Homo sapiens: one gene and its partners. The protein of the gene in region 1 purifies or fractionates together with the protein of each later gene. This does not show direct contact. Each region holds a gene or a part of one and is shown on either strand. Other genes may lie near its edges.

Region 1 (5,164 bases):
AGTGTTTCGGGTAGAGCTTTCCTGTACTGGCAAAGTAGATTCTGAAGTTATGATACTAATGCAGCTCAACTTGACAGTAAATTCTTCAAAAAATTTTACCGTCTTAAATTTTAAACGAAGGAAAATGTGCTACAAAAGTAAGGAATTTATTTACCAAAATATGTTTTACATGTATGTGAGAAGGTGAAAAATAGAGTTTGTTGTTTTTTCACAGATTTAAGTATGTCCAACTCATGATTATAGTTGCAAGTGAGAAAAGAGCACTGGCAGGTGAAGTTTTGAGATAATCCCAGATGGTTGGTAGCCAAGAATCTCACTCAGGCCTCATTCAGTCCATGCTTTCTCAAATCTTTTGTCAGAATTGCTAAGATGTTTTCCATTAGGAATAGTGCTAAAATGGTTGAAGAGGTAAAGAAATAAGAAAAATCTGTTGGGACTTCTGAGTAACTATGTTAACTGTGTTTCCCTTATCAAGTTACTTTTATGCAGAAGCATTGCTCTCGGGTGAGATAGACCTGGGTTGGAATGGCAGCTCTGCTCTTTTCAGGATATTGATACAAGTTACTTAACCTCTCTGAGGCTTAGTTTTTTCATCTGTAAAATGGGCATAATACCTGTTTCAGAGGTTTGTTGTTTTTTACGGTTCATTAAATCTAGCCTAAAACTTAGAATACCGTATGTGGGTACTTAGCAAAGTTAGTTCTTTTTGGTTTTGAATTATCTGTTACTGAAGAAATCGAGTGGATATGAAAGAGTTCCAGCATGCTAGGTCATAAATCAAAGAATTTTAGAGTTCTCCTTACAAGTTTAGTCCAACCCACTCACTGTAAGTTCCACAAAGCTACAGTGACCCAAATTTACAAGGTCACGTAGGTAGAATTGGTTAGTATCTAAGATGGGGGGGGGAAATATACTTTAAAAAAACCTCGCAAACCCTCAGTGCTTACTGTGTTCTAAGTGCTTGATAGGTATTACACCTGTTTAATCCCTACAGCAACCCTAGGCAATGGGTTCTCTCATTGTCTTCATTTTCAGAAAAGGAAGCTGAGCTTCAGAGAATCTAGCTTGTCAAGATCAGATAGCTAAGTGGTGCAGCTAGGATGCAGACCTGTTCTCTCAGCCTCTTTGTTAAACTTTCTTTTAATAAATTTCCCAATTGAAATCAGTGCTGAGTGTTATGAAAACACCTAAGGCCAACAAGTGAGTTGAATTGGCTAATGTCTGGGTACATGCCAATAAAAAAGCTGCACTACATTTGAATAGACATTTTAAGAAAGAAGAGTTAGCATCTTTCAGCTTTAGTGTTTTGGTACAATTTTCAGTTCTACTATATTCAGTTATATACCAACTTCCATGTAATGTTAAAGACAAAGGAGATTTCAGAGACTCTCTACTCCAATGTAGTCATTATATATTTGATATAAGGAGATTGGACCCTTGGCCACCTAGGCTACCACAGCTAGCCAGTGAGGAGTGTAAAACATTCAGTTCCTTATCCTCAGAGAGATGGGCATGACTGTACCATGGTGCTTCATCTGTTACTCTTAAGTAAGGCAGAATGATAACCAGACATGGTGTGGCCTCTGGATCCCACCAGTGCTAATATCTGCTAAGGTTAATGATCAGCTGATACTCAAAATGGTCACATACTTTCTCCATTTTCTTTAATATGTGTGTGAAATTAACATTAAAATTCTGTGTTGGAGTAATTTTCTATTCTGTTTTAGACTTAAGTTTTTCTCTGGCCCTCTGTATTTGTTGGTCATGGTTTTGGCCACCCTAGTCATCCAGTTCAGGCTCATGACTCTTACTTTATTATGTGATCCTAATGTATTTATTTATCTGGTTTTCCAGCCTACTATATTTCAAAAACTGTCTGCAACAGAAAACATCTGTACTATATGGAATGTTAGTAGGTGTTACTAGCAAGAAAAGTTTCTTTTATCATATGAGGATGGGAATTATGGGTTAGACAAGTTTTGTGACCCCATAACTCCTTTCAGTCTTTATATTCTAATGTTCACTGTGAAGCTCCAAAGAGACACTATAGTATGTGGCTTTTCCCAAACTTCTTGATCATAGGAACATTTTCACTGAGCATCTAGAAGTAACACCCTTTGGCTAACAGTGGTATAGACTATTGATTGGTGACTGTAGTGGTGATTATCAGAATAGTAACATAGCTTTCATTATCTCGCAACACATACCTGTTGCTGAGTTCCAGCAATGTTCTGATAATTATAGTAATTAAGGATTTTCATGGAAAAGAGAATTTCTAAAGCATCATTTTTCTCCTTTAAATTCAGAACTTGAAGAAGTAAAAACTTCAGCCTTGGACAAAAACACTAGCAGAACTATTTGTAAGTGTTACTGTATTATCTTTATCCATTATTAGAAATGAAAAATGGTTGACTGCATATAAACATGATTGCATGAAGCTTGGAGGCCTCATGGTATCAAATGATAATGACACCATGCTGTTATTTTGCTGGTGCTTTGTAGACTGGTGGATAGGTCATGAAACTGTTAGAATATTGAATATTTTGAGAACTAAAATTTATACGTATTTTGTAACGAGTAAGCTAAAAAGTTTTACAAGCAAGAATATCATATATTTTTGAGTAGTCATAATTAAAGTATGACCATGAAATATGTGTAAGATGTTTATTAGCAGAGGGTTAGAAAATCTGGCTTGCAGTCTGGACCTAATCTTAAGCTAATTTCATCCAGGTGAAGGTGTAAGCTTAAAGATATTATGTTACTTAAACCTACAGAGCAGGTATGCAAAGTAGATTTTTATTTTTTGGTATCGGTTGTGTTTAGATATTATTACAAACTTCTTTTTTTTTTCTGACATGAAGACATCGTTGGGTCTTACTCTTCTTGCGGTAGTGTTAATAGCAGTATCTTAAAAGGATACTAGATTCTCTTCATGCAAGTAGACTTTAAAAAATTGGTTTTGAAAACTTCAAGTATATAAAAGTTCAGAGTACGCTTTGATGAACTCCCATGTGCCCATCCCCCAGCCTCAGTAATGATCAACACTTTGCCATTGTTCTTCCATTGATTCCCTCCTTTTGTGGTTGGTTAGGGGTGGAGGAGAGTATTTTCAGGCACATCCCAGGCATCAGATTATTTCACCCATAAATATTTCAGTGTAGATCTCCTTTAAAAGGGCCTTTAAAAAACCCCCACAATCACCTAATACCTATTCATTTTGATTTATCACATATAACAAAATTAACAGCAGTTGCTTAGTATCTCCAATAGATAGTCCATGTTCAAATTAACCCGATTGTCTTTAAAATGTCTTTTTTTCCTCCTGAATCAAGATCCAAATGAAGCCTACACAACTGTTGGGTGATATATGTTTTGTATTAATCAGAAACCACCAACCCTTTTATTAATATTATTTATTTATTGAAGAAATTATGTCATTTGTCCCATAGAATTTCCCACATTCTGCATCTTCCTGAAATCATTGAACATGTTTGTTTGTTTGTTTTTCTGTAAACTGGCAGATAGATTTTGCACTTGATTAGATTTAGAACCAACTCTTTTGGTAAGAATAGTCCATAGATGGTAGGTACTCTGTGCTGCCTATTTTGTCTTTTCATCACCTTGGGAGGCACAGAGTATCTGGATGTCCCAAAGGGGAATTTTTTTGCCTGTAAAATAATGTGACATATCGTCTACTTGCTGGAATATTTCTGAAAAGAAAGAAAAAACATTAAAAAAAATGTCACTGTTGCCAAAGTTTACTTTTAAAATTCTGGTGACTTTGCCCATTTCTTTTATGCTAGTAGGATATTACTTCTCACAAAGAGCAGTACTGCATATTCTTGGCCTCTGTCTGTGTCTTCCTTGCTGCCTCTCATCTTCCCGCCCTTTCTATTTATTCATCCACCCAGTACCTATGGAGAGTCTGTGGTGTGTTAGGCGGTATGACTGAAGCAGAGGACTAAACTGTGAGCAAAGAGATCCTTTCCTCGGGGGTTTATAATGTAGTGGGAGAAATAGACGAGGCAATATAGGCAATGATACCAACATAGCATGGCAAGCTATGATAAGGCAAGCACAGGGGATTTGGGAACCCAAGGATAGCTTCCTGAGAACAGTGACAGCTCTTCTGAGAGCTGAAGGGTGACCAGATGGTGGCAAATGAAGGATGAATGAGGGAATGGGAAAAATGCATAGGAAAGCCTGGAATTTGGAGGTAATTGAGCAGGGCGCATCTAGGGGGATCTGCCCAGCAGAGCCGTATCCTTGGCTCTGCTCTGGAAAGTGCTTGGACAGTACTGCTAACATATGCCTCCAGAATTCAGAATTTTTTTCTGTCCCTCCCAAGATTGAATAGCTTTCCTGTGGCATAAGGTAATTCTTGATGAAAGTCATGCCTTCATTCAGGCTACAGCCAAGTCTAGCTGCCCTAGAAGTCATTTGGTCTCTACGTTAATCTGTTCTGATTTATTGTTTGTTGATAGGAAGGTTAAATTTTAGAAAAGTTTTATTTTTCTTATTTCCATGTGTTTTTGAAAGCTGTAAGTTTTATCTTTTATCCTGACCTATCCCCAGAACTCCAAACTTGTATATCTGTCAGTTTAACGTCTGTGCATGGAGATATGAGGTACCTAGTTAGTAGACTAGGTACTCCAAATTTAACTTGGGCAAAACTCTTGATTTTCACATCCCCAACCTGCTTATTTTTATCTTTGTAAAGTTACCCTTATCCAAGTTATTGCTTGAGCCAAAACTTTTCATTCTTCTTTTTCTTTCTACTTTGGTACAATCCATTAGTAAGGTATGTTGACTGTGTTCCCAAATCCACTTACTTCTCATCTTCACTGTGACACTCTTGTCCAAGCCAGTGCTGTCTCTCTGAATTACTCTGGTAACCTTCTAACTTGTTCCCTGCTTCTGCTCTTGCTCCCCTACACGGCATTCTTCACACATCATGCAGTCATTTTTTGTTAAGTGACCGTGTGAAATTGCTTTGCTTGAAACCTTGCAATGATCCCCCATCTCACTTAGGATAAACCCCAAATGCCTCAAGTTTTGTTCAGTAGAGTTATGATGTGAGTACTCGTGATCAAATCTTTCATGAATCTCCAGTCACACCAGTTCTACTTCTGTTTGCATCTTCCACTCTGCCTGCTTATGTCAT
Region 2 (5,164 bases), on another chromosome or scaffold:
GGAGGTGAACTTTGGTGAATTAAAATCGAAGCAGGCTTTCCAATTCTGCTCCATTTGCCATACCTATCCAACGCATCCTCTGTGTTGTATGCTGCAGGTGGTTCATGAAGCATTTTGGCACCTTAATGAAGGATGTGCTTTCTAAATACTGTTTATTCACATTGCTGTCATTATCAATTACCATTCCAAAAAAGCCTTCAAACTTAGGTTACTTTGAATAAATTTTAAGAGCATTGCTCTGACACGGTTATAGTTGTTAGGAACTTTGTAACTAAAAGATTTGTTTACATTTATTTACTTTGTTGATTTTTAAAATTGTTAATAATATTTCATGACAGGCAAATACTCATCCAGAGACGTAATTGATAAACACCTATCTAGAGTTATAACAATGATATTTACAGGGCATGCTACTAGGATATACATGAAAAAGGAAAGTATACTTAAAGATGTGTAAAATAACAATATGTTCATCACCAAAATATACATCTAATTCATTATTAAGAGCATGAAGATAAGTAGACAAGCTTAATATTAGAAGGGGGAAATTATTTCATCATTGTGAACCTCCTCTCTGACCTGTTGCAAACACAGTGACAAAAAACAGTTGCTTCAGGCACCTGCGGTCTTTAGGCAACAGGATTTTTCTAACCTGAATTTCCTTTGTGGGTGGACACAATCTGAGGCAGAAAGGACAAGTGTCCTATGCAGAGTTATTTAGTGAGGGAAGGGAGAAGCCCATTCACTATACTGGCTTGGGAGTCAGGGCTCCGTTCTGCAGAACATGCAACTTTCATTACAGTGGGATTTGGGTTGCTTTCATGAAAATCTCACCATGTCAGAATGGACACTAGATCTTTCCTATGTGGGATCCATGGGTAGAGATGGAGCTTAACCCCAGGGCATCCCAGTGGGGGTGTTCTTTTCCTGCAACTGTGTTGTACTCTTAGATAACAAATGCTTTAATAAACATGGAAGTAGCAAAATGCACTGTTAAAGTGGACTACTTCTCTGTTTGAGGTGCTGGCAAATAGCTCCACACTCCAACCTCCTGATTCTTGGCTAAAAGCCTGAATGTCTCCCAGGGCCTGCAGGGACAGGAAAACCTCAAAGTGCCAAGTGTCATGCCAGACCAGTAGGAAACTTTTATGTGAAGGCTTTCTGAGGCTAGCGATGCCATGCCGTCTTACACTGGTTTATTTTCATGGAGAGGGAAGAGAATGAAAGGAATATATTAGATAATAGAAAATGGTTCTTCAAATTACTCCTCTGACCTGAAAAAGAAATCTGATTTAGAGATTTTTAAAAGGACTATTTTGATGAAGACAGGCAAATGATTTAATTTAAATTCTGTGGACTAAGTCCAACAGCTCACAATATTAGAATATTATTTCTGAAATTTTGAACTCTAAAAATTATGCTATTTCATTATAGGCAGTTGTTCTTTCTCTTACTGACTTTGAGTCACCATGATTAATTTTTGTCATCTTTGTAAATGTAGAGAAGTTATGCTTATTATGTGATGTGACTTTTTAAGAATTTTTAAGGAAAATTATCACATTCCAATATAAACCAAAATATTGACTAGGGAAGCTGTTGGTATTCAATCACATGGCACTCATTCAAACAAGTCAAGGCTAGACTTTGATCCGTAGCTGTTATTTATGGAGATTAGATAAGTGATTTAAAAAACGGAGAAAGCGCCATCAGAAAGCTACCATGGCTCTTTTTCCACTAGGAGAAATGAAAGCAGTGCTTAAGAGTGAAGACTATGCAGTCCTTTTATTTCTTTTTGTTTTTGCTTTATCATGAAGGGATAAGGTAAACCTATATTTTGATGGATTTTCAATGCATTGAATTAGGTCAGTTTAGCACAGGTAGCTAGAGAAGGTTATTCCTAAATTGATTGACTAAATGGTTCCTAGAAGAAAAAAATTAATTCCTTTCTAAAACTTATTAAATTGATGAAAAGTTAACAATGTATAATTAGGTAAATTATGGATATCATTTATTTATTTCAAACTTCACCTCTTTGCCAAGTTGCCCCTGTTCCCCTTAACCCAGATCTAAATTGCATGTCTCAAGTACCTGGATTTTTCTTCCCTACAATAAGTACGTAATGATATATTCTGTGGGATAATTTATAAGCCAGTTTCAGGAAAGCAGAAATGTCTTCAAAGAGTTTGAACCAGATGTGGCTGCCTGATATGTTAATGAACTTAGAATTAAAAACAAACAAACAAAAAAATCTCATGGAATAATTTTGTAGATAAACTGAAATAAATTTAATGTATATTTAACAACTAGAAGAAAATCTAGATAATTCTTAGATATTTGCTTTAAAAAGATTACATTTTGGCTATTAGATTATATTTCTACTACTTTTGTGTCTTAAGAAAGCTAGACGTTATTACATTTATATATACATAAATATGTAACGTGTGTTTATGTTATTTGTAGAGGTGCCTTTAGAATACCAGTATGATGATGAAAGTCTTTACTTACTTTTTTTAGAGGCTCTTTTTTGAACCATGAATTATTAATTAATTATATGAAAAATATAAAAGGTTTTAGTATGTTCCAACTAATCAATAACACATGCCCTAACTTGGAGGGAAAATTGGGTACCAGAGTGCCATATAGTTGCATTTATGTTTTCTTTATCTGAAAAAAGAAAAGTTCTTAAAATTCTGTTTTGAAGTGAGGATTTATTTCAATGAAACTATCCCTTAACGATTACAATTTCGCTTAAGAAAACATTGATACAGATGCTGGGCATGCTAAACAGTGCCTTTTCTCCTAGTAGAGCCTTTAGATTTTCTTATGCAATTTGAAGGGGTGGGAACATTGGAAGAGGGTCTTCTCCACATGGCCAGAGGTCATGGTTCTTGTGGTAAAGATGTGTAGTCAGCAGAGTTTACTGCATTTTTTTACTGATAAAGTGAAGGTTATACAATTAAGAATTATAACAGTAAACAGGCAAAGAGTTGTGTAGGGGCTTCAGTTCTTACCCTGGCAGAAACATCATACATGCAAAGGTAGAGATACAAGTGTGATCTACCTACTCAGCCTTTTCATTTTAAATTGAGAAACATTTGCGCCTTTGCTACTGTAATATCCTAAGCAAAGAGCTGTGGGAAGTTAAGATAGGAAAAAAAAATCCCAGAAGTTTTTCATCTACTGGGAAAGATAACCATACAGAAAGATAAAAGTGAAACTAGGCAGCAAGTGTGGAAAGTTATAGTAGAGTTAGAAATATGGGGCCTGGCTAGGTGGCTTACACCTATAATCATAGCACTTTGGGAGGCTGATGTGGGAGGATTGCTTGAGGCCAGCCTGGGCGACATAGTGAGACCCACATATCTATATTTTGTTTTAAAAAACAAATGAAGTGCTAAGGGAGAATCAAGCGACTTAGGCATGTTTTACCTCCAAATACCTCTATTAGCAGGAGGGTACCATTAACTATAAAATCAGATTTTCCATTCTGCAAGTGTTCCTAATAATGAGTCACCTTTCAAAACTTTATGAGCCAGGGTAGACCACACATTTTACATCTGTAAAGTGGAGCTATAGAAATTTGTGGCATCATTGGTCCATCCTAATGCCTTGCCTCACTTGAGATTAACATTTCATAAAGCCATTGTCTTCTTTATAAGCCTTTGAATTCCATAGCATGAACTTACTAGAGCTTTTAGGAGATGAAAAAACCATAGAACACACACTAGACAGATAAATATTACCTATCATTGTCATAGCTATTTTTAGCCATGATCTTGACTTTATGTAGTCTTAGAAACTCACTGATTGGCCCAGATCAATTAATGATCTATTATGAGTATCACAGAACAAAACGATTTTTTTCTTATTATGTTGTATGTGTGGCATCATTAAGGAAAGGAACTGGTAAGATGGATGAATAAGTTTTAAAAATTGTGTCTTCATAATGAAAACAAATGTATGCATGTGAATTTGATAAAGTAGGAAACAACATAAGGAACATTTCTGAGGCAATATAACTTTCTGCCATGAATAAAGGTTTCCACTTTTTTTTTTTTTTTGAGACAGGGTCTCATTCTCTTGCCCAGGCTAGAGTGCAGTGGTGCGACCTCAGCTCACTGCAACCTTTGCCTCCCAGGCTCAAGCAATTCTCCTGCCTCAGCCTCCCGAATAGCTGGGATTACAGGAACGCACCACCACACCCAGCCAATTTTTAATAGAGACAGGGTTTCACCATGTTGGCCAGGCTGGTCTTGAACTCCTGACCTCACATAATCCACCTGCCTCAGCCTCCCAAAGTGCTGGGATTATACGCATGAGCCACCGTGTCCAGCCCGTTTCCACTTTTATTAGATGTTTTTTGTTCTCAACAGGGAGTCATCAGTTATTTCAATGTGTGTGATTTTTTGAAAATATCATCTTATTTTTTTCTCTCAAACTTTGGAGAGCTTAAAAAATAGCCTGCTACAGCACAAAAAGTAAGAAAAGTTAGCCAGTGTTGGGGAGCAAAGCTCTGTCCTCTGCGGGCCAGTTCCCTACTGGGAGGCAAAGGATGTGATTTCAAGAGTGCCAGGAAATCTGCCATGCCTCAAAATATCTTCCTTTCCACCTGTCATGGTGCCTGACATTCCATATTTAGACAGTCATTCCTTTGGTGCATGAACATGCAAATACCACTGGGAGGGGAAACACCTTGCTATTATTATAAACTAACTCTTGCACTGTATTTATCTGTGTGAGGGATCAGGTGTCCATGGGACAGCTGAAATCTAGGGGCTTAGAGATCTGAGAAATAAGACAGCACTGTTTCTGTTAGGAGGAAAAAGGAATTTAAACATGTTTATAGGAAAACTAATAGCCAATAAAATTTACCATAATGAATCATCAATTTTACTCTGGTAATTAATCATCTTGTTTTTTGGTTATTTTCTAGCTGACATTGATGACATGAAAATATGCTATGTCTTAAGAGAAGGGGCTAATGCCACAAGTGATATGTTCTATTTTGCAGTTGAAGATGGTGGTAAGTATTCCCCTCTCCTGGTAGTGACCGCAAGGAGAGACGCTTTTCTTGGTTGCTCTCTGATGACATTATTACAAGAAGTCTTCATCAAGTAATATTTCATGATCACCTAAATTTAACCTGGTATTTGCTGTAGACAAT
Region 3 (5,164 bases), on another chromosome or scaffold:
GTAGCTGGCCAGGACGGTAGCGGGGATGGAGTGAGGGAAGAACAGAAGTAGAGGTGTGTGAGTCACGGCAATGCCATCATCCAGTGGTAGCCCCTAAGCCCAGCACAGTGCCTGCTGGGGCGCTTGGCAGAGTAGATGTGAGGCTCCTAATACTTTCTGGAAGAGCTGCACCCACAGAACTGGGCTGCAGAAAAATACTTTGCATTCATGCCGCTTTGCACTTGGTTAAAGCCCTCATCACCACTATTTTCTTCAATCCTCACCCTAGACCTGCATGTGAGGTAGACAGGGCCTACTTTCTTCATTTACAGATGAGGAAGAGGATGATCAGCGACTTTAAACAGCTTTCCCAAGGTTACGCGATGTGAGCAAAAGAGCTGGATAAAAACGGAAGTCTCACCACATCTCAGCCCTGATATTCATCAACTGCCCTGAATTGTCTCTTCAAGGATGGCTGGTGGGGCAGCTCCTCAGAGAGCAGCCCTGATGCTCTTCTAGTTGCCTTTAGGGCTACCTCTATAGCTCCAGCTTTGACATTTTGCGGCTCAGGGCAGTCCTGGCTGGAGACATCTGCCCTCACTCTTGGCAAGATCAATCTTCCACCTCTGTGTCCTCTGTCCCACGTGGGCATACCAGGGTCCACAGTCTCTGCCCAGACAGAATGCTCTATCTTTCCAAATGCATCCTGGCACAGTCCCACAGTCAGTGTGTTTTCTGTGCATCCTTGCTCTCCCCTTACCTACATTTGCTTTCCTACAGCCCACGAGGTTCGCTGACCTCCAGCCTGAGACAGTGCTGAGCCTCCTTTTCCTGCTCCTGCTCTCAGCTGCAGGCGTCAGGATCCAGATTCTAGTCAGTGTTGCTCCACGTGGCCAGGGCCCTGCTGCTTGACTAAGGATGATGATGAGATCCCAGTAGAACCTGAGGGACTGTGAGGTCTGGGATGGGTGAGCTGGCTTCTCGTCAATTCTCAGCCCTGAAGAATGGAGGGCATTGTAGTAGTGCCAAGGATTTGAGTAACGGGGACGTATTTGCCAATTGCATCCTAGAGCCCAATGTCTTGCCCAAGGCCCTGACTAGAGCCCTGTCAGAGCGCAACTTCTTGTTGCGCCAGAAGGTGGCGGTAGAGATGAGGACAGTGGGGATTATACCATTGTGCAAAACAGGGGTCAGTGACCTTAAGGAGCAGAGGAAGGGGAGCATAGTCCGAGCAGCAGGGTGGTGGGGGTCAGGGGCGGAGGAAAGATGGGGGGTCATAGGGCATACACTAGAAGTAAGCCTTGTTGTGCACACTCTTCTTCTCAAACTTTTGCTTGAGCTCAGAGATCAGAGTTGACTGGACGGGGCTTCCCATAGTTTTGGGTTTTGGCGGGGGTTGGGTCGGCTGCGGAGTGAGAGAGCCAGAGACAGTAGGCACGGTCCACTGGGCTGCGCCAGTGCTGGGCGCCACGCTGGGTGGTGGAGGGAGAGCCGGAGCTCTCGGGAGCAGAGAGCTTTCTGGGCTGTTGTTGTTACAGTTCTCATTGGGAGGTTTCTCTTTGAGCATGAACTTGGTAGCGGCTTTGGTGCTCTTGGACTTGAGCCACTCAATGCGGATGGTGCGGGGCGCAGGGCTGGGCCGCTTGCGGAGCACCCGCCGCATTGGCAGGACCTTGTTAGACTTCTTGTTGCGCCAGAAGGTGGCGGTGGAGATGAGGACAGTGATGGCCACGACGGTGGCCATGGTGCCGGCCAGCACACCCACGGCCTTCATGGGGTTGTCCTTGGTCTGTATCAGGAAGGCAGCCATGGGGCTCCGGGAGAGGGTCTGAAAGAGAAAGCCACTCCCTGCACTCAGCTGTTCCCACCTGGTCCCTGGAGTACAGAGTAGGTATGTGCTTCCTTAAGCCTAATGGTTTTTAAACTTTCTGGAGTCAGGAGTCCCTTTGAGAATCTGATAGGCACTATGGGCTTTTGTCCAGGAAAATGCACACAGAGAGAGCATGATGCATGCAGTTCTCCAGAAAAATGCACGCAGACCCAGCATGGTGCAGACCACTCTCTGGTACAATATGCTCAGACAGAACGCAATGCGAGCAACCTCTTTTGGATTCAGAACTCCTGCTTTAGCTGGAGTCTGTCCTTGAGATGGTAGGAGATCACTTGCCTTTGATTGTGGCAAGTGGGGGAGGGGGTCCATCTGCCCAGATGTATCAGGAGTCTCTTAAGTGACTAGTTTTCTGCCAGACACTGAGCTGAGAGCTACACATAATGACTTCACTCTGCTTTTCAACACCCGTGTGAAGGAGGCATCCTTATCCCATCTTACAGGAAAGGTAACAGAGGCTTAGCAAAGCCCAAAGTCACACCATTAATAAGTATTGAACTAGAAACTCAACCCGCTTCCAAAGACTGTGTGTTTGATGGCACAGGCTGCCTTTGATAACGTTGAGTGTCTTTTGGAGGAAGCCTGGAGATGGTCCTTCTCGCTCTGCCCACGTTGCAGAGAGGTCTGAGCTGGCCTGCTGACCCCTTTTTCCTGACCATGGCTTTGTACTCACCTCAGCATCTGTGATGTCAATCTTGAGTAAGGCTGTGGTGCTGAAGGATGGGGAGCCCCGGTCCTTGGCCTGCACCTCTAGGGACCATAGGCAGTCCCTTCCAGGTGTGATGTTGTGCAGGGCATCCAGGGAGCGGATGGAATTCTTGAGCCAGATCTCCCCCGTGTGGGAATTGATGTCGAACACGTTGGCGGGCTCTGCATGGGTGATGGAATAGTCCACCAGGTTGTTGGGTTCCTCTGCATCCTCGTCTATGGCCTGTGCGCAGGGAGAGACAGACAGAGCTGGGCTTTGGGGACAATCCTTGTGTACTCTGGCTAAATCAGCACGTCATATGGGGCTTGCTGGGTTGATGGGAAATGGTCCTGATCCTATTTTGAGAGGATTGAGTTGGGAAAGGAACAGAATGCATGCTCTCCTATAAGCCAGGGTTTACGTAGGTCTTACACATGGGCTAGCCGATTCCATTATCAGAACAAGTCTAGGAAGCAAATATTGGTGAATCCATATTACAGATGCAGAAATGAAAGCTTAGATGCAAAGTGGCTTTCCCATGGATGCAGAGGTATAAGAAAGGGAGTCAGGATTCAAAGTCAAGTCTGCTGGGTTTCAGAGTTCATCCTTTTTGCCACATTGGCAAAATGACAAAGTGCGGTGAGAAAACCACTCTTTTGAAAAGCAGGCAGACCAGCTATGTGAAGGCAAGCCAAACACTTAACCCACCTGGCCTGTTTTTTTCATTTGTTGAATAGCAATATCTTCTTTCTCAGAGTTTAATTCTCTGTTGAGGTGGGGATGGGGATATACAAAATGTCTTAAAGTCCTTTGTCCATGGTGGGAAGCCAAAAAATTTTATCTTCAATGAAATTCTTATGCCTCAGTATCTCTTGGAGCTGCTGGACCCAGGCTTTTAGGGGAGCTCAGCTGCCTCCAAAACTTACCTCAATTTTCACTGGGGTCCCTAGCACCATCGTCTTCTTCTGAACGCTCTTTCCAAACTGAGGGGGGTGGTCATTGACATCCAGCAGTGTGATAAACACCTCAGCTACGCTGTACTTGCCTTCCATGTCCTCTGCCTTCACATAGAAGTTGTACCTGGCAGTGGCCTCAGCGTCCAGGCTAGCCCAGGGCTGGGTGTAGATAAGCCCAGTGGATGGGTGGATCAGGAAGCTGCCAGGCAGAGCACATAGGCATGGGTGTGCACGCATATACACATATGTGCATACATACACATGCCTGCAATAATGAGCTGCCTCCTGAAGCAGGAGTGAGGTGTCATGCAGCTCCTCCAAAGTGTCCTACCTGCTCCCTCCTATCCTTGCAATCTAAGTGAGGTAGATCCACATGTGGACTCACCCATCTATCACTATCCAGCTTAGCAACTCCAGTTATAGTCTTTCTCTCTTCCTATGGCCTGCCCCCTCCCCAGCCAGCCCTGCTTGCCTGGCTCCTGAGGTCCTGGGCCCTGAACTTCCTCACCCTCTGCTTCAGCTTTCCACTGCCTCTCTCCACTTCTCTTCACCCAGGCTCCTGTCCCTCCCAGGCCCCTCCTGCCTCTGCCACAGACCTCCTCCACCCTCAGCCTTCCAATCCCCTTGCCCAAGGCCCTGTCCTGGATTCTGGATCTACTTACAGGTCTGCCCCAGTCCCATAGGTGGAATATTTCACTTCGCCCCAGGGTCCTGTATCTGGATCCACAGCCTGGAAGAGAAAGAGCCCTGGGTGGCACGTGCCTCTTTGTCAGGGTATGTTGGCAGCTCCCATGCCCTGAGGGTTGCTTTCAACCACAAAGCAAGGGGATTTGGGGTTTGCCCAACTGGGGAGAAATTGGTGGAGAGACCTGCCCGGGATCCCTAGTTTTCCTCCAAGAAGTTTTAAGTATTGAAAGAGCCAAGAGATTTAGATCTGGAAAACACTCATCCCTCCTTTATAAATGAGGAAGAGGGGATGGGTCCCATGCCCTGTGATTGTTGTTTACACATATATCCTCATTACTGTCCTGTGAGGTGTTGTAATACCCATCATATGGATGAAGAAACTGAGGCTAAGAGAGGGCAAGTAGCTTGTCCAAGGACAGCTAATGAGTGTGGGTTCTGCCACTCAAACTGCAATGACCTTCCAGATTTGTCTGGCTTCACAAGGCCTCCTATCCCACCCAGTCCCTGGGCCAGTGCCCAACCCACTGTGACAGCCACCACGCTGGAGCCCCCTGGGGCGTTCTCAGGAATCCTGGCAACGTAGTAGAGGGAGTCGAACTTGGGGACATTGTCATTGGTGTCCAGGAGCTGGATCACAACATCCGCTGTGGAACTGAACTTCTCTGGGGTGTTCACTTCAACAGCCAGGAGCTGGGAAGGGGGGAAAATGGGGACTTGTCTGGGTAGGCACTCATGCTGCAGAGAGCCTTCCCACCTCATCTCCCCAGGACTGATGTGGCATCCATCTGCCGTGTCTCCCGATCTTCCTCGCAGCTGCCAACCAGCTATTCCTGTAAGGGTCACCTCTAAGGCCTGGCATCTTCCCCTACCCCGTCAATTGGCTTGTAATGCTAGCTTTCTTATCATTCCCATCTGTATTGGGGTCAGTTTATTTTGTTCCACTGAGCTGCATATCCTTTCCAGTTC
Region 4 (5,164 bases), on another chromosome or scaffold:
TCACGTATTTTTTTACAGCTGTAACATATAGACTGTAGAAAGAGAGGTAATGCATGTGTATGCGTATGTGTGTGTGCCTGTGTGTGTATTCTGTTTTCTTACAGAACGTAGGTCCCCTCCATTCCCTTCAAACCTTTTCTTAATCATGATTAGTAAAAAAAAAATTGTAATAATTATTGCTTTTGCCATCTAAAGGAATCTATTATTTTCAAAAATCCCACTGGTAATGTATATTGAAGAAACTACTTTGATTAATATAAACTTAATATAGAAAGCAACTTCTTTTTAGATAAAACATTAGTGGAAGTTGAAAGAGGATTGAGCAATATTTCGAACAGCTCTATCCCCTAATTCTCTGCATATTTTTATTCTATTTCTTTTTCTTTGTGTGGGTCTAAATACTTAGAAATGATTTTCTAAACTTCAGCATATATACTTTTTTATATTTTTCTTTCTTTTTTTATCCAAAGCCTAAATCTCTTGAACATTGAGAGAAGAACCATAGTTTCCAACCCTTTGATTTTTTCCTCTTCACTGTGTATGTTTCAACTATCTAAGATAATACAATTGTTCCCATTAATTACCAACAATAACACAATAGTTCTAATTGGATGGCAGAGAAAAATTTTTTCTCATAAGTAAAGATTAAGGTAAATAGTACAAAACCCTACCCAGGATGTTGTGCAAGTCATTAAGATCCAAGTGGATTTCAGATTTCTAAGAATTATATTTATTTTTATAACATTTTATGTTTGTGTTTATTGACTTAACCATACTCCTCAGAAACCATATTCCTCAGAAAATCCCTTTGATTACCAAAGGTGGTGAGATGATTTATTGGAGATTTTCGTATTTTTCGTAGAGAATATAAATGAGACATAATTCAAATAATTTTCTATAAATCATACTTTTTTCTCCCTTAGATATTTTATAAGGTCCGAAGCACAGGAAGACAGCTTGCACAGGGTTTGACTAAAGGTCTAGGGAATTTGAAGAAAAAAAATGACATCTAGAGTTATGATGTTTATTTATATTATTAGTCCATTTGTGAAAGAACAGTGAAAGTAAATCTACTATAGTTTATTTATAAACAAAGAAGACAAAATATTTTTATAAATCTTTCATTCCGTAAATTCTCATTTAACCATCATTCTCCAGGCCCATTTTCTCTGAATGGTTTTGAACTAGGTTGTCTGGAAGGTCCTACCCATCCCTGATGATCTGTGATACTAAATAATGATGACGATATTGACAACTTATGCTTATTTAACAGCATAGTTTTCTACAGTTAAATATCTTTCTGTGTTAAATAGTACCTCATACTCTGTGCTAGGGACTGTTTCAAGAAGTTTATATGTATATTCTCCCATCATTCACATTTTGTCCTTGGTTAGTCTAAACTGTTTTTGATCATAATACATTTAATTTCTTTAACATGCATTTTGTATTAAATTCAGAGAGACAATATCTGAAATTTCTTATAAAATAAAACTTGAAGAAAACAGATAAGTGATGTCATCTTTCGAGTTTTTTTTAAAACATTCTAAGATGCAAGGTTTCTGTATAAATGCTTAATATCTGTAGACCAATAATAAAATGGGCAGTTTTAGTAACCACTTTTTTAAGGTTATTAATCTAGTGTTAATTATTCTTGAGAATTAACAATGAAAGGTGATTATAACCTACAAAATTGGCATCTGAAATGTTATTTTTCATTATATTTAATTCTGTACTGAGCCTGGTAAGTGCAGGTATTTTCCTAATTTTTATTTTTTCACAATTTATATTTCCCCTCCCTTTTAATCACCTTAATATAGTAACAAGAAAGATGATTGTTCTGTTTAACACACACAAATATTTAACTGTAGAAAACTATACTATTAAACAGAGTCATGTTCGGTGTCAATGAGTGCTGACTAATCTGGATGAAATTCTTAAATTTATATTATGACACTAGATACATAATAAAACCGAGACTGATGTGACCAGCAAGCTTTTAATTATTATTAGCTTGTTATTAACCTATCACTCTTAATTTAGATGTAAGAAGTATTGCTTACTTATAGAGAAATGTTATATCAGCTATTGAGAAAAAGTTGTGCCAGACCCTATTCTAAGCACGTCATATGCATTATAATAATTCTTCTCATCTACCACTAGAGTATAAACATGCTACAATTTTATGTACTGCTAGGGTAAAATGCTGCCAATTTAACTCTGACAAATGCTTATTTTTGATTTCTTTAATATTTGTCCTGTTTTAATACATGCAAAAATAAGGGGTTTTTAATATTAGAATTGTTGGAATATAGCTTATTTAATTCTGACAGCAATCCCATTAGGTAGGTATGATTATTATTCTTATTCTACAGATGGGAAAAGGAGACACTGAGAGGTTATGTAATTTGCTCAAATGCACACAGACAGGAATGAGTGGGCTGGAAGATAGCCACAGCCACATGGCTTCAGAAACTGCAAAGATAACTATGCCATGATATTATCTAAGTAACAGCAAACAAACAAAAAACCTCACAGGCTATTTGATTGTCAGAGACCAGAGATTACCTATGCATATTACTGAAACATAACGTGAAGATAACAGCGATTGAGTAGCTTGCCCTACCTCTCAGAGCTAGCTAGTGATAGCATTAGAATTCGATCCTAGAATTACTGATCCCAGAGTAATCTAAAGACTTTACCTTCAAACACAAAGTTTCCAAACAAATGTTAAATAAAATAGTTTATACTTGAAGTTCTTTCTTAAACTAGATTTTAAAAATGGTGTGGAATTTAAACTGTCATGTTTAAGTTTTCTCTCCCTGACATACCTTTTGTCATTGGGTACACAGAAACATTGCAATGATTAAAATCGAAGCACCGGAATAAAAAAGTGCACATTGTTTTTATGCCATAAATGCATAATGCCTTTAATAAGCATTTTTGATCCGTATTTCATTGTCACTTTGTTTCTATTATATTTCATTCCCTTTTCCCATGAAACAGTATATAATGCAAGCAGAGCTTTCAGTGTCTGTATTCTGCAATCTGTAGGAAAATGTCTCATAGTTATTGGAATTCACACAAGACTGCATCTCAGTATGAGTAGCTCTTCCCTGTCACTGTTTTTGATGCTTGAGCTAAAGAATATTTTACAAAATGGTTTAGTGTTCAGTGTATGAATTTTTGAGATAGGACTTCTCCCTTGTAGGGGTGAAATCCGAAAATCAGTGTCAGATGGAAATCTTAGCTCTAAGAGTTAGGGAGATTGGTGGAAGGGTTTTAAACTAACTGTGAATTTTAGCCTCTAGACTTTGGAAATGTGGCAGTTATCATGAGTATGAAATTCATGGATGCAGATGGTTGATTAAGATATCCCAGGATGGGCCACTGCTATAAATCTCCACAGAAAAATTGAGAAAACCATTTTGATAAGGAACATATTTTTGACCTTTTATGTAAATTCATAACACAGGTTTTGCTGGATTCATTAAATGCGTATAAGTGAAATAACCATTGGTTTCATAAAATTGCCAATTGAGTCATGTGATAGAAATATTTAATAGAATTAAAATATGTCAAATGGTGAGTAAGAGGGGTGCGTGAGAGGAGAACTCCCATGTATTAAACTATTATTATGTGTCTTGTATTTCACATTTTCTACCTAATTCAAGACAACTGTCTTCAAGGTAAGTCTAATTTCCCTCCACATTAAGATAAAGTTATGGGTGCCTAGGTGATCTTGAGCCTACATCACCAACCAAGGACACACTGATAGCTAGAGTACAACGGGGCTCAGTTTGTTACACAGCCTAGAACTCTATTGTTTAAATAATACCAAATGGAGCAGGAGCAAAATGGTAACATTATCTGCTACTTTTAAATAATAAAATAGGAAAGATATAAAGCCAAAACCCTTTTGCTTTTGTCTTACTTGGTCTTTTATTTTCTTTTTAAAAAAATATTCATACACGAAATCTGATTTAGTGTATGAATATTATACGACACACCTTTATTTTCCTGTTATTGCTGTATTATGAATATTATACCACATACCTGTATTTTCCTGTGCTTCATGATTATGTAGTCATATTACCCAAGTATATTTACATAATTATGTACAAGCACACAAATAAATATGTTCAGTCCTTAGAATAGGTGTTCTTGTTGATATCAGCTTTAAAACTAAAATAATTAGGTAAATCATTTAGCAATAATTCTCTGAAGATTTTTACATTATATTTTAGAGTAATAAAGTTATTTACAATTAATAGATATTTACTAATAACACTAAATTTTTTCTTTCTTCATAAAGACAGCTTTTTGGAAAACCCCAAGGCTAGTAAATGACACATATACACACACATATATGTTATTTACATACTTAAATACATGCATACATATTTGGGGAATAACTCCTAACATATTAAAATATTTAAATTGTTAGTAACATTGCTCTCCAAAGTGCAATAAATTAAGAAAAATGATAAGCAATATTTTACATCTCAGTCACTGTGAAACATTGCATATATAACAAGTATTAGAGAAAGCATGTTGGGCATCAGTCTGGCTCACTCACTAGATAAAGAAGTTTTTCACCCTTTTACCATGAAGGTTCCAAAACTGCACCTCAGAAAAATGGCAAATAAAATACATCATGGACTGGAGAATTGTTAGAGTTAAGTCCTGACATGCCCAACTGGGAATAGTCAAACATCTTATGCCATTTTAGGTAAGATTGACCTGGAAAATAATTTCTAACAAATCACAGGACAATTTCTGGCTACAATTCCAAATAGCATTTAGGAATCTTTGCACTTAATATAGATCTGTTATGTGAAATGTGTGTTATATAGAGATAAATTTTCAAAAAAATCATTAAAATATTTGACAGGCTCCTATTACTTGCTAAATAAGCATATGTAAATTTGTAACAAATTACCAAGAATTTAAAGAACTTATACTGCAGTAGTATAGAAACACTACATACACTCATGTCTAATGCCTATGTATAATACAATTTTCTAGAAACATGAATGTTGGTTTATTTCAGACTATTGAACTTATGCTTGAGAAAATTTTGTGTTAATTTTAAGAGGGATGTAGGCAAATATGAAAACAGGCATATTTGATCAACCCTCTACTACATGTCTCTGCTTTCTGATGT

The links. Proteins that work in one complex are often made in the same cells at the same time.
Region 2: the proteins of RYK (region 1) and FREM2 purify together in Homo sapiens (affinity purification with mass spectrometry; 2 studies listed by BioGRID and IntAct, with this or other methods). This does not show direct contact.
Region 3: the proteins of RYK (region 1) and CDHR1 purify together in Homo sapiens (affinity purification with mass spectrometry; 2 studies listed by BioGRID and IntAct, with this or other methods). This does not show direct contact.
Region 4: the proteins of RYK (region 1) and PCDH9 purify together in Homo sapiens (affinity purification with mass spectrometry; 2 studies listed by BioGRID and IntAct, with this or other methods). This does not show direct contact.

What each region holds. Positions count from the first base shown.
Region 1 is NC_000003.12:134,204,668-134,209,831, reverse strand, and holds part of RYK (tyrosine-protein kinase RYK isoform 2 precursor), read left to right. Parts: intron 1-2; coding exon 3-137; intron 138-2,306; coding exon 2,307-2,360; intron 2,361-5,164. UniProt on the Homo sapiens protein: May be a coreceptor along with FZD8 of Wnt proteins, such as WNT1, WNT3, WNT3A and WNT5A. Involved in neuron differentiation, axon guidance, corpus callosum establishment and neurite outgrowth.
Region 2 is NC_000013.11:38,692,765-38,697,928, forward strand, and holds part of FREM2 (FRAS1-related extracellular matrix protein 2 precursor), read left to right. Parts: intron 1-4,933; coding exon 4,934-5,023; intron 5,024-5,164. UniProt on the Homo sapiens protein: Extracellular matrix protein required for maintenance of the integrity of the skin epithelium and for maintenance of renal epithelia. Required for epidermal adhesion. Involved in the development of eyelids and the anterior segment of the eyeballs.
Region 3 is NC_000010.11:84,210,725-84,215,888, reverse strand, and holds part of CDHR1 (cadherin-related family member 1 isoform 1 precursor), read right to left. Parts: intron 4,889-5,164; coding exon 4,724-4,888; intron 4,242-4,723; coding exon 4,174-4,241; intron 3,711-4,173; coding exon 3,482-3,710; intron 3,322-3,481; coding exon of another isoform or gene 3,307-3,321; exon of another isoform or gene 3,264-3,306; intron 2,799-3,263; coding exon 2,541-2,798; intron 1,808-2,540; coding exon 1,268-1,807; 3' UTR 1-1,267. UniProt on the Homo sapiens protein: Potential calcium-dependent cell-adhesion protein. May be required for the structural integrity of the outer segment (OS) of photoreceptor cells.
Region 4 is NC_000013.11:66,897,485-66,902,648, reverse strand, and holds part of PCDH9 (protocadherin-9 isoform 1 precursor), read left to right. Parts: intron 1-5,164.